Linked DNA regions of Homo sapiens: region 2 is reported to be linked to region 1. Evidence: microRNA targets listed by miRTarBase, many of them from high-throughput screens and not tested one by one. Region 1 holds a microRNA gene; the other region holds the end of a gene's coding sequence.

Evidence for each region. The annotated mature microRNA hsa-miR-4770 reads UGAGAUGACACUGUAGCU and lies in region 1 at 2,168-2,185, shown strand. An mRNA with a match to its seed (bases 2 to 7 or 8) in the 3' UTR can be bound and repressed. Matches are read on the target gene's strand: a 7mer-m8 pairs with bases 2 to 8, a 7mer-A1 pairs with bases 2 to 7 and ends in A, and an 8mer does both.
Region 2: the mRNA of CLEC17A is a reported target of hsa-miR-4770. Seed matches in the 3' UTR shown: 7mer-A1 at 3,872-3,878 and 7mer-A1 at 2,505-2,511.

Annotation. Positions count from the first base shown.
Region 1 is chrX:6,380,716-6,386,091 of GRCh38, reverse strand. It overlaps MIR4770 (microRNA 4770), which reads left to right and starts at 2,129; the gene lies at 2,129-2,186.
Region 2 is chr19:14,609,133-14,614,508 of GRCh38, reverse strand. CLEC17A (C-type lectin domain containing 17A) reads right to left here. Exons shown (of 14, transcript NM_001204118.2): 14 at 2,474-4,445. The coding sequence ends at 4,313. It also overlaps a transcript of ADGRE3 not described here. Among named protein-coding and RNA genes, the nearest start is that of SNORA104, 10 kb to the left of the region's middle. RefSeq lists a silencer at 234-283.

The sequences.
Region 1 (5,376 bases):
ATTGGTCAGTACATATATGATTTTAAAATGTAGAATTAGAGAGAGCAAAATAGAGAGAGAGAAAGAAAGCTAACTATAAGAGATATTTAGATAATGCATGTTTTGCAGTGAGTTTGACATTATAATTGAATGACTTCAGACATTACAATGGCATCTACTAAAATGTTTTCCACAGGCTGAGATTGCTGCCTTGCCCTTGGTCTACCCCCAAGTTTCTCAACCATCCCACTGTCAGAGGCGTTTGAACCAGAGCAACTCCACTATCTTGAATAGGGGCTGGGGAAAGTAAGGCTGAGATCTGCTGGGCTGCATTCCCAGAAGGTTAGGCATTCTTAGTCACAGGATGAGATAGGAGGACGGCAGAAGATACAAGTCATAAAGACCTTGCTGACAAAACTGGTTGCAGTAAACAAGCCGGCCAAAACTCACCAAAACCAAGATGGCAACAAAAGTGACCTCTGGTCATCCTCACTGCTCATTATATGCTAATTATAATGTATTAGCATGCTAAAAGACACTCCCGCCAGCGCCATGACAGTTTACAAATGCCATGGCAACATCCAGAAGTTACACTACATGGTCTGAGAAAGGGAGGAACCCTCAGCTCCAGGAACAGCCCACCCCTTTCCTGGAAATCTCATGAATGGTCCACCCCTTGTTTGGCATATAATGAAGGAGTAATAATAAGTATCCTCGGTGGAGCAGCTCAGTGGAGTAACCATTCTTTTTTTTTTTTTTTTTAACTTTCTTAATCAACTTGCTTTCACTTTACTCTATGGACTCACCTCAAATTCTTTTTTGTGCGAGATCCAAGAACCCTCTCTTGGGGTCTGGATAGAGACCCCTTTCTGGTAACACCACTATTGACATTTGGAAGGAGATATTTCTTATGATGGGAAGCTGGCATGTGCCCTGTAGTATCGCTGGGCCTCTGCCTGCTAGATGCCAGGAACAACCTCCCAGCGAGGACAAATAAAAAACGTGTCCAGATATTGCTAAACATCCCTAGAGGACCCAGTTGCCTCTGATTTCCCTTGAGTAGCTAAGCATAGCCAGAACTTACATTTGTATAAATGAATGAAAGAAAGAATAAGTCATTTTCCTAACAATGGTTACTTTACATTTGAAACACTAGAGCCCTTTCCCCACTTCTCTTTATGAACACAGAGATCGCCTGGAAAAAGTCTATGCACTTAACCCTTCTACTAGGTGGCTTTGGGTATAGAAGAAAAAAGCCCCACACCCCGGAGCAATCAACATTTAGGAAAGTGAAATCACAGGAGAAAGAGGGTGTCATACAAGTCGCTACTAATTTCCTTGACAAACGCTGTTTTGAGGAGCACTGTTAACTCTCTGAAATCTCTGTTTTCTCCCTCCTGAAAGATTTTTAGAGAGGATTCCTTTCAAAATTGGGTTCCGGGACTCCGTGTTTCCAGTGGAATGCTGTCACCATGAGACCCCGTGACGCACTAGCCCAGGAATGCCGGCAATAGCCAAGCAGAGCCCTGTGCCTGTTCTCTTCCTGGCACAGAGGCACACAAAACCCAAGCAGGCCCACCCAAGTCAGATCCTGGGCTGTGGGAAAGCCTTAGTGAATGAGCTCATTGAAGTGGAGAGATGAAAATGAGGGAGCTCTGAAACTGGCAGGGCCTGCAGAGGATTCCTAGGGGCAATTCCTCTGCCCAGAAAACAAGGGAAGGGGCCTAAAGCCCAAACAAGGACCCTCCTGATTAGTAGGGAGACAGAAAGCTCCACTCTCTTCCCCTCGCCCCCGCCCCCCACCCCATAAAACAAAGCTATTCGGGATGCTTCAATTGCCAAGTAGTGCAACAAATCACTTTGCCAAACGTGAACTCTGAAGTCAGGGGTGCTCAGCTCCGGCAAATGCCACTCTATGTCTGCTCATCCATGCAAGACGCTTTGCAATGAGAATGTTTACACTAGCCCTCCGTAAAGCACACAGTTACAACCCATCAGGAGGTATGCAATCAGCAACCAGGATGCACTGTCTGCTCTGGGCTTAGAGGCTATGAGCTAGGGCCATTTGCATAACTGAGTCAATGAAGGTGGTGAAAAGGGTTTTGATTCCTATCTTGCATGTGGAATCTCATTCTCTCTTAGAGATAATGAGTTATGGGGTCATCTATCCTTCCCTTGGAAAATGATCTGAGATGACACTGTAGCTCCCCATCCTCTGGGATCATTGATGTCTGTAAGATTTTATAGGAAGCAATTGAGTTGAGTGTACCCCCTTTCCCCTGTCCTCAATCTAAGTGATAATCTCTGGCACCCCAAAGGGTGTCAGACTGCTTTGTTGATCTTAATTCTGGAATCCCTCTAATCCCTAACTGGGCTTCCCACAATACCAGTGCCCTGGCTTAAAGGAGGTTTGCAGTATGCACACATCTCTGAGGATGGCTCAACTCTCCTGGCCCCCAAGGAATTCCAGGTATTCCATCCCTCTTAATACCTCCTGAAGTCTCTTAACTTCCACCAGACATCTTGTAATTCAGCCTAGATGACCAGATTTGCGTTTGCACCTGTCAATCAGCCTTTCGAGTTCTTGATGGAGAGAATGGAAAACATTCCGTTCTTACCAGACAATTCCTCTCCATGCCACAGAGCTGGCAGAGCACCTAATAGTGATGCTGGGTAAAGTGGCTCTCCAGGGGCACTGGGCTGCTACAGTTTTGAGGACAAGCACCCACACACAGCCAGTGGGCCCCAGGGCAAGCGCACTGTGAGGCGTGAGACTCTACCCAGTAAAGCTGGAGCCTTCAACCCCATAACTCCACCAACATTTGAAAACTCCAATTGCCTCTGGAAGATACTGCCGCTTTCTTCTCCAGGAAAGCATCTTCTGTCTGCTGAGAGTAATATTGTGCGTGGAAAGTCCCTTACCACGTAGTGTTCAGACACTGGAGAAAGGGAGAGGGAGTCATCACTCTGAGAGAATCCACGAGAGATCTGTGAAGCTGATGGAATTTCAGGGCGCAGGGTGTCCTATTCATACAGTAGACCTGAGTGTGTTCTGCTCACATTCCAAAACAACAGGACAGGGGAGGTAAGGACCTATATAGAGAGCCTCTGCCTATATAAATCAGCTTTCCTTCCAAACCATAAAGCCAAGGAACACTAGAGCTGTGAATCCTGGGAAGCATTTTGATTTTGTGTTCTTTCACATCTGTCTCATTAACATACGAAATAAAGTTAGTTAGTTGCAGGTTGTTTCTTTTTAAAAAAAAGAACAAGACAGGTGTAAAATCTATAAACACCTGCTAGATCAGTAACTGCCTCTCAACAAGACCAGCTGGCACATCAACATCTCCAGGAGATCATATCTTAAATGTAAAGTGAACAGTTAATGTTCCTGAACTACCTCTTATTTTAAAGCCATAGGAAACCTTTTGCGGGGGGGTGGGGGGCATCTCCCCAAACTCCTGCGCATGACAAGAGCTCTGCACAAAAGATAGGAAGACCCGGTCACCCTAGGCCACCTCAGCAAGGCGGTTGGTTATGTTCTGCTGAGAAGCCATGGAGCGATTATGTGAAGAAAGGCTGTTCTCTTTACCGGTGCCAAGAAAAAGATTAGATAAGAAAAGGTCACTGGGGCAAGGAGGGGTGAGTGGTTGTTTAATTTTTAACAAACATTGCGCACTCCATAGCATGGCTGTTTCCCCCACTGTATGATGTTTCAAACATTAATTGAATAAAGGGATGGTCTAAGCAAAGGTAAAAGTAGCCCTAAACAGAATGTTCCTTTGTGATCGGCGAGAATAGTTTGGGACTACATAGTCATGGGGCCTCAGAAGGACAGAAAGTCTACAACCAAGTTTGTGTTTTTTAAATGATTAGATCCAATCTGTGGGTATTTGATAAGTTGCCAAAACATTTCTTTAAATGTGTCGGCTGGGTGCGGTGGCTCACGCCTGTAATCCCAGCACTTTGGGAGGCTGAGGTGGGAGGATCACTGGAGCCCAGGAGTTCGAGACCAGCCTATGCAACATAGGGAGACTCCCATCTCTACAAAAAAATAACAAAAAATCGCCAAGCGCCTATAGTCCCAGCTGCTTGGGAGGCTGAGCTGGGAGGGTCGCTTGGACTCAGATCAAGGCTGCAGTGAGTTATGATCGCACCACTGCACTCCAGCTTGGGTGACAGAGCAAGATCTTGTCTCAAAAAAAAAAAAAAAGGACAGATGTTGCAGGGATGAAGAGTAGGATGAGGTGGGTGGAGGACATCTTTGGGGAAATGACAGGGAGCCGGTGAGACAGAATCCAGAGATGTAGAAGGGAAGTCAGCACAGACATTGGCCTAAGCCCTCCTTGTAAGGGACTGCAATGTAAAACGAAACCTTTCATACTACAGGAGACTCCACGGACTCCTTAACCAGAGCAATAAGGGGAAATCTAGCAGCAGTTGTAATCTTAAATTCCTTCTAAGAGGCAGAAAAGATAAGACACATACACAGAGGAGAAGGCCACGTGGAGATGGAAGTAGAGAGTGCAGTGATGTGGTCACAAGCCCAGGGAAGCCTAGAGCCCCCAGGAGCTGGGAGAGGCAGGAAGGTTCCTCCTCTAGCATCTCTGGAAAGGACTGGATACAATTGTAGTGGATTGAACAGTTGCCTCCAGAAAGATAAATCCACATCATAAAGCCCAGAACCCGGAATATGACGTTATTTAGAAAAATAGTCTTTGCAGATTTGTAATTAAAGTCAGATCTGGAGATGAGATTATTCTGACTTACGGTGGCCTTAATTCAATGACCAGTGTCCTTCTAAGAGACAGAAGAGGAGACATGGACACAGAGGAAAATGCCACGTGCCACATAGAGACAGAGGCAGAGACAAGTGATATGGCCACAAGCCTAGGGATATCTGAAGCCCCCACGACCTGGGAGAGGCAGGAAGAGTCCTCCCCTAGAGCCTCCGGAGGGCATGCCACCCTGCCCATACCTTGTTCTCAGACTCCTGTTCTCCAGGACTGGCAGAGGATATAATTTTTATTATGTTAAACCACCCAGTTTGTAATGATTTGTTACAGCGGTCCTAGAAAACTAAAACTAATAAACTAGTACAGATTCATGACACTACTGTGTTGATTTGCCTCTGCAGAGAAGTAGGTACCATCCAGGCAAGGATTCAAAGCGGCTGGTAGAGAGCTGGGCTCAGAGCAGGAGGAAAGGCCAGGCTTTTGCTGAACTCCTGGATGGACACAAGCTGTGGAAAGGTCACCAGCAATTGGCTGCTAAGAAGACAGGTCAGTGTGTTTACCTGATAGACCCAATTCAAGATCAAAGGAAGCTTCAAAAACAACGCACCAGTTACTTCCAGCAAGAATTCCATGAAGACCCTGAAAATCTTCTATGTCTGTA
Region 2 (5,376 bases), not on the chromosome of region 1:
TTACCACACAATATATGTTTGATAAACCATGGTTATTATTTTTATCCAACTGTTGCTCCCCTGGACCTAAAGTGGTAAAAAGTGACCTCTTTCATATTTACCTCTCTGCAATTAGATAATCATGAGAGATGTGGAAGGGAGATAGGTTGGGACCAGTTCCACCAGGGGCCTCCTAGAGACGTGACCACAGACCCCTGCTTCCCCATTTCTCAATACGCATATCAGAAAACAACTTCCCTCTTCTGAAATGTGGGAACTTCCCCTGACCCCAGATAAAGTTGCTTGACATAACAGTCCCCTGGGTGGAGGGTTTACAACACGACACCCACCCACTCAGCAGGCTGCGGACAGTACAGGAGCTGGCTTTGGTAGTGATGCATCAGGGCAGCTGCAGAGGTGGGCAGAGGTGAGAAGAGAGGACAGACAGAACCAAAACTCAGTAGTGGGGTCGTGCCTGTGAAATGCCACTGCACTCCAGCCTGGGCCACGTCCTGAGAACCCATCTCTTAAAAATAAATAACGAGGCTGGGTGCAGTGGCTCACACCTGTAATCCCAGCACTTTGAGAGGCCAAGGCGGGTGGATCACTTGAGGTCAGGAGTTCGAGACCAGCCTGGCCAAAGTGGCGAAATGCCGTCTCTACTAATAATACAAAAATTAGCCGGATGTGGTGGCGCACACCTGTAATCCCAGCTACTCAGGAGGCTGAGGCACAAGAATCGCTTGTACCCAGGAGGAGGAGGTTGCAGTGAGCCGAGATCATGCCACTGTACTCCAGCCTGGGTGACAGAGTGACACTCCATCTCAAAAAAAATTTTTTTAATAACGAAATAAAAGAACAAGTAGATTTAAAACAAATCAAAGAAACAGGAAGTGAAATCAGCTCCGACCTCTCCCACCACCTGCTCTCCTCACAGTCTCCTTGCTATAAGCACCTGTTCTCAGACAAAACAGGAAAGATTCTGCTATTGATTAAGGGAGCTTATTGATCAATAAATTGATCGCAATCCTTGTATTTTAGGAGGCTGAAGCAGGAGGATTGTTTGAGACCAGGAGTTTAAGCCCAGTCTGGGCAACAAAGCAAGACCCCTGTCTATACAAAAAAAAAAAAAAATTAAAATTAGCTGGGTGTGGTGGGGGCACACCTGTAGTTCTAGTTATACAGGAGTCTGAGGACGGAGGATTTCTTGAGCTCAGGTGTTTGAGGCTTCAGTGAGCTATGATTACAACACTGCACTCCAGCCTGGGCGACAGAGTGAGACCTTGTCTCAAAAAATAAAATAAGGCCAGGCATGGTGGCTCACGCCTGTAATCTTAGCACTTTAGGGGGCTGAGGTGGGCGGATCACTTGAGGTCAGGAGTTCGAGACCAGCCTGGCCAACATGGCAAAGCCCTGTCTCTACTAAAAATACAAAAATTAGCCAGGCATGGTGGCACGTGCCTGAAATCCCAGCTATTCAGGAGGCTGAGGCAGAAGAACCAGTTAAACCTGGAAAGCAGAGGTTGCAGTGAGCCGAGATCACGCCGCTGCACTCCAGCCTGGGCAACAGAGCAAGACTCTGTCACAAAAAAAAAAAAAATAAATTGATTGGTTTGGAGAATGTCTACCCACCCTTGGATGCAATTCAGGGATTGTCCAAAGGGAATACTATGTTGAGTTATGCCTAGCTGGGAGTAGTACCAGCCCTCTAATTGGTATTTTTTGGTTGTCACATGGCCAGGGCAGGAGGGTCGGGTGGGGGTCACTCTGGCAGTTTGTGAATGTTATGGGCCAAATTGTGCCACCCCTCCCAAATGCATATGTTTAAATTCTAATTCCCAGGACCTCCTAATATGGCTGTATTTGGAGACAGGATCTTTAAAGTGGTCGTTGTAGGCCCAGCACAGTGGCTCATGCCTGTAATCCCAGCACTTTGGGGGACCAAGGTGGGCAGATTGCTTGAGCCTAGGAGTTCAAAACCAGTCTGGGCAACATGGTGAAACCCCGTTGCTACAAAAAATACAAGAATTAACCAGGCACGGTGGTGCACACCTGTAATCCCAGCTACTCAGGAGGCTGAGGCGGGAGGATGCTTAAGCCTGGGAGGTGGAAGTTGCAGTGAGCTGAGATCACACCACTGCACTCCAGCCTGAGTGACAGAGCGAGACCCTGTCTCAAAAACAAAAGAAGAGGAGGAGGAGATTAGGACCCAGACACACAGAAGGAGAACCAGGTGAAGACACAGGGAGAAGAGGATCATCTACAAGCCAAGACAGGAGGCCTCAGAAGAAATTAACCCTGCCAACACCTTGATCTTGGACATCCAGCCTCCGGAACTGTGAGAAAATGCATTCTGTTGCTGAAGCCACCCAGTCCTTTGTTATGGCAGCCCCAGCAAACTAACACACAGTAGACAAGGAACACCCAACATAGTGGCATTTTGAGAAGCACTAACATTGCAAGAGCTAATAGCCCAGGAAAGTCCACACAGAAGTAAAGTGAATTTTTATTTTTATTTATTTATTTGAGATGGAGTCTTGCTCTGTCACCCAGGCTGGAGTGCAGTGGCACAATCTCGGCTCACTGCAACCTCCGCCTCCTGGGTTCAAGCAATTCTCGTGCCTTAGTCTCCTGAGTAGCTGGGATTACAGGCACATGCCACCACGCCCAGCTAATTTTTTTGTATTTTTAGTAGAGATAGGATTTTACCATGTTGGCCAGGCTGGTCTCGAAATCCTGACCCCAGGTGATCAGCCCACCTCAGTCTCCCAGAGTGCTGGGATTACAGGCGTGAGCCACTGTGCCTGGCAAGTAAAGTGAATTATATCATCAAAGACGTTACAACCCACAGATAGCTCAAGGGCACGTGCTGGCAGATAGGTCCATCGTTGTCCTGTGTGGATATGACCAGGTTATGGCCTGCCTGGCCACACTATGTAGGGGTCTTGCTTTTCAGCTGGTATGCCTTTCTAGAAGTTCCATGGGCCAGCCAGGTGTGAGGGTGAACGCCTGTAGTCCCAGCTACTTGGGAGGCTGAGGCAGGAGGATCACTCGAGCCCAGGAGGCAGAGGGTGCAGTAAGCTATGATTGTGCCACTGCACTCCAGCCTGGGTAGTAGAATGAAACCCTATCTCAAAAAAAAAAAAAAAAAAAAAAAAGGATAGAAGTTCCACGGGCCAAGTCTTCTGGCAAAAGTCTGATTCTGCCACTTAGCTTGTGCAAACCTCACCCAAGACATTGAGAAAGTTGCTGGTCAAAAATAATTTTGATGGTTTCTGGGTTATTTGTGCTGTTTGAGACCAGGAAGGAAGCAGTGTCTGGAGAGGACGACATGGGGTGAATATAGAAGCTCTCCTGTCTTCTCCGCTGATGTTCTGTATTTTTAGGTTTGTAATTTGCAATGATGTGGGGACTACATGAGACCAGCCCACTTAATGTATTTCTGTGCGAGGCAGATCTAGAGGTCTAGCTCAAAGGGAAATTTTTCTGTCACCACTTTCAAAGCTTTTGTTTGGAAAAAAAAAAAAAAGGAAAAGATGGGGAAAGTAAAAATAAAAATAAAAATATCGGCCAGGTACGGTGACACATGCCTGTAATCCCAGCACTTTGGGAGGCCATCACGGAAGGATTGCTTGACCCCAGGAGTTTGAGACCAGCCTCGGCAACAGAGTGAGACCTCATCTCTATAAAAATAATAATAATAATTTTGAGCCAGGCACAGTGGCTCACACCTGTAATCCTCACAATTTGGGAAGCCCAAGTAGGAGGATCCATTGAGGCAAGGAGTTTGAGACTGGCCTGGGCAACATAGTGAGACTCCCTCTCTTTAAATGCTACAAAAAATTGGCCAGGCATGGTGGTGCGCATGTGTAGTCCCAGCTACTCAGGAGGCTGAGATGGGAGGATCACCTGAGCCCAGAAGTTTGAGGCTGCAGGAAAAGGAGCCCAGTCCCAGCTCTTTGTGGTTCACAGGCGCCAGGATATTTCATCCCAGGTTCAACACCAGCCCCAGGGTCCTCAGGGCTAGTATCACTTCCCAAGAGTCATGATCAGGAACTTAGTGAAGATCCTTTCAACCCCAGAAGTGGGAGACCTCCCACCACCAAGCTCTGAGCATCCTCCCAGCTCACCATCTACTAGGGCAAGCCCAAGTCCTCACTCTAGAAACAGCCTGACTTGCACCCCTGGGAACTTGCTGCATCCAGGGTGCCAATCCTGTTTGAGGCACATCTGTGTGTCCACTCACGAAGAGGCAAGGCCGTCCACGAAAGGGCAGGAGATTCTCATCTCAAAGAGACACTCAGATATGGACCCCCAGCCTCGGCCCTGGGCTTCAACAGGAACATTTCCGCTCACAAATCCAATACGTAGTTTTGTAGCAAGAGAGATCATTCCAGGTGCCACCTTTGTTCATGGTAGCACAGTCCTCATCGTGGATGTTATTGGGTTCCTCTGGCTCCCAGAAGCTGGATGGAGGAAAAAGTGGGCAGAGGGACAGGGATCTTTAGGGTGGTGAAACTCTTCTGTATAATACTGTAATGATGAATACCTGGCACTACGCATTTGGCAAAACCCATATTAGGCCGTGTGTGGAGCCTTACACCTGTAAGCCGGGCACAGTGAGCCACCGTGCCTGGCCCTTAATCAATTTCTGGTTTTGGGGGGTTTTTTGTTTTGTTTTGTTTTGTTTTGGAGACAGAGTCTCACTCTGTCGCTGAGGCTGGAGTGCAGTGGCGTGATCTCGGCTCACTGCAACCTCTGTCTCCTGGGTTCAAGCAATTCTCCTGCCTCAGCCTCCCAAGTAGCTGGGATTACAGGTGTCCACCACCACACCCGGCTAGTTTTTATATTTTTAGTAGAGACGGGGTTTCACCATGTTGGCCAGGCTGGTCTTGAACTCCTGACCTCAAGTGATCCGCCCGCCTCAGCCTCCCAAAGTGCTAGGATTACAGGCACGAGCCACCGTGCCTGGCCCCTTAATCAATTTCTGAATCTGGTCAGTTTCTGTCTTGTCTTCCAAGGACTCTTTCTTTTACAACCTCCCAACCCAACCTTCTAGGAATTGTTTAGATCATGTGGGCTCTTGCTTAAAGCAGGGCCTGATTCAGGGACTCGAGTGTGTAGGATTTATTAAAGGATGTTCTTAGGAGAGAGGTGAGGGAAGCTAGATGGAGAAGGGGAAGGAATTGAGCAGGAGCATGGACTCAGATGACTCTAGCCTCAGCCTGACCCCAACAGAGACCACTGGGATGTCAACAGCACCAGAGTCATCCCAACTTGTCACAAGGGGTCCAGGCTTCTCTTAGGCTGTCACCGGTTGTGAGCTGACCCCAGTGGAGTTGGGTAGTGTCTTAGGTGAGCAGGCTCCCATTCAGCTGAGAATAGCTTTGCGGAAAA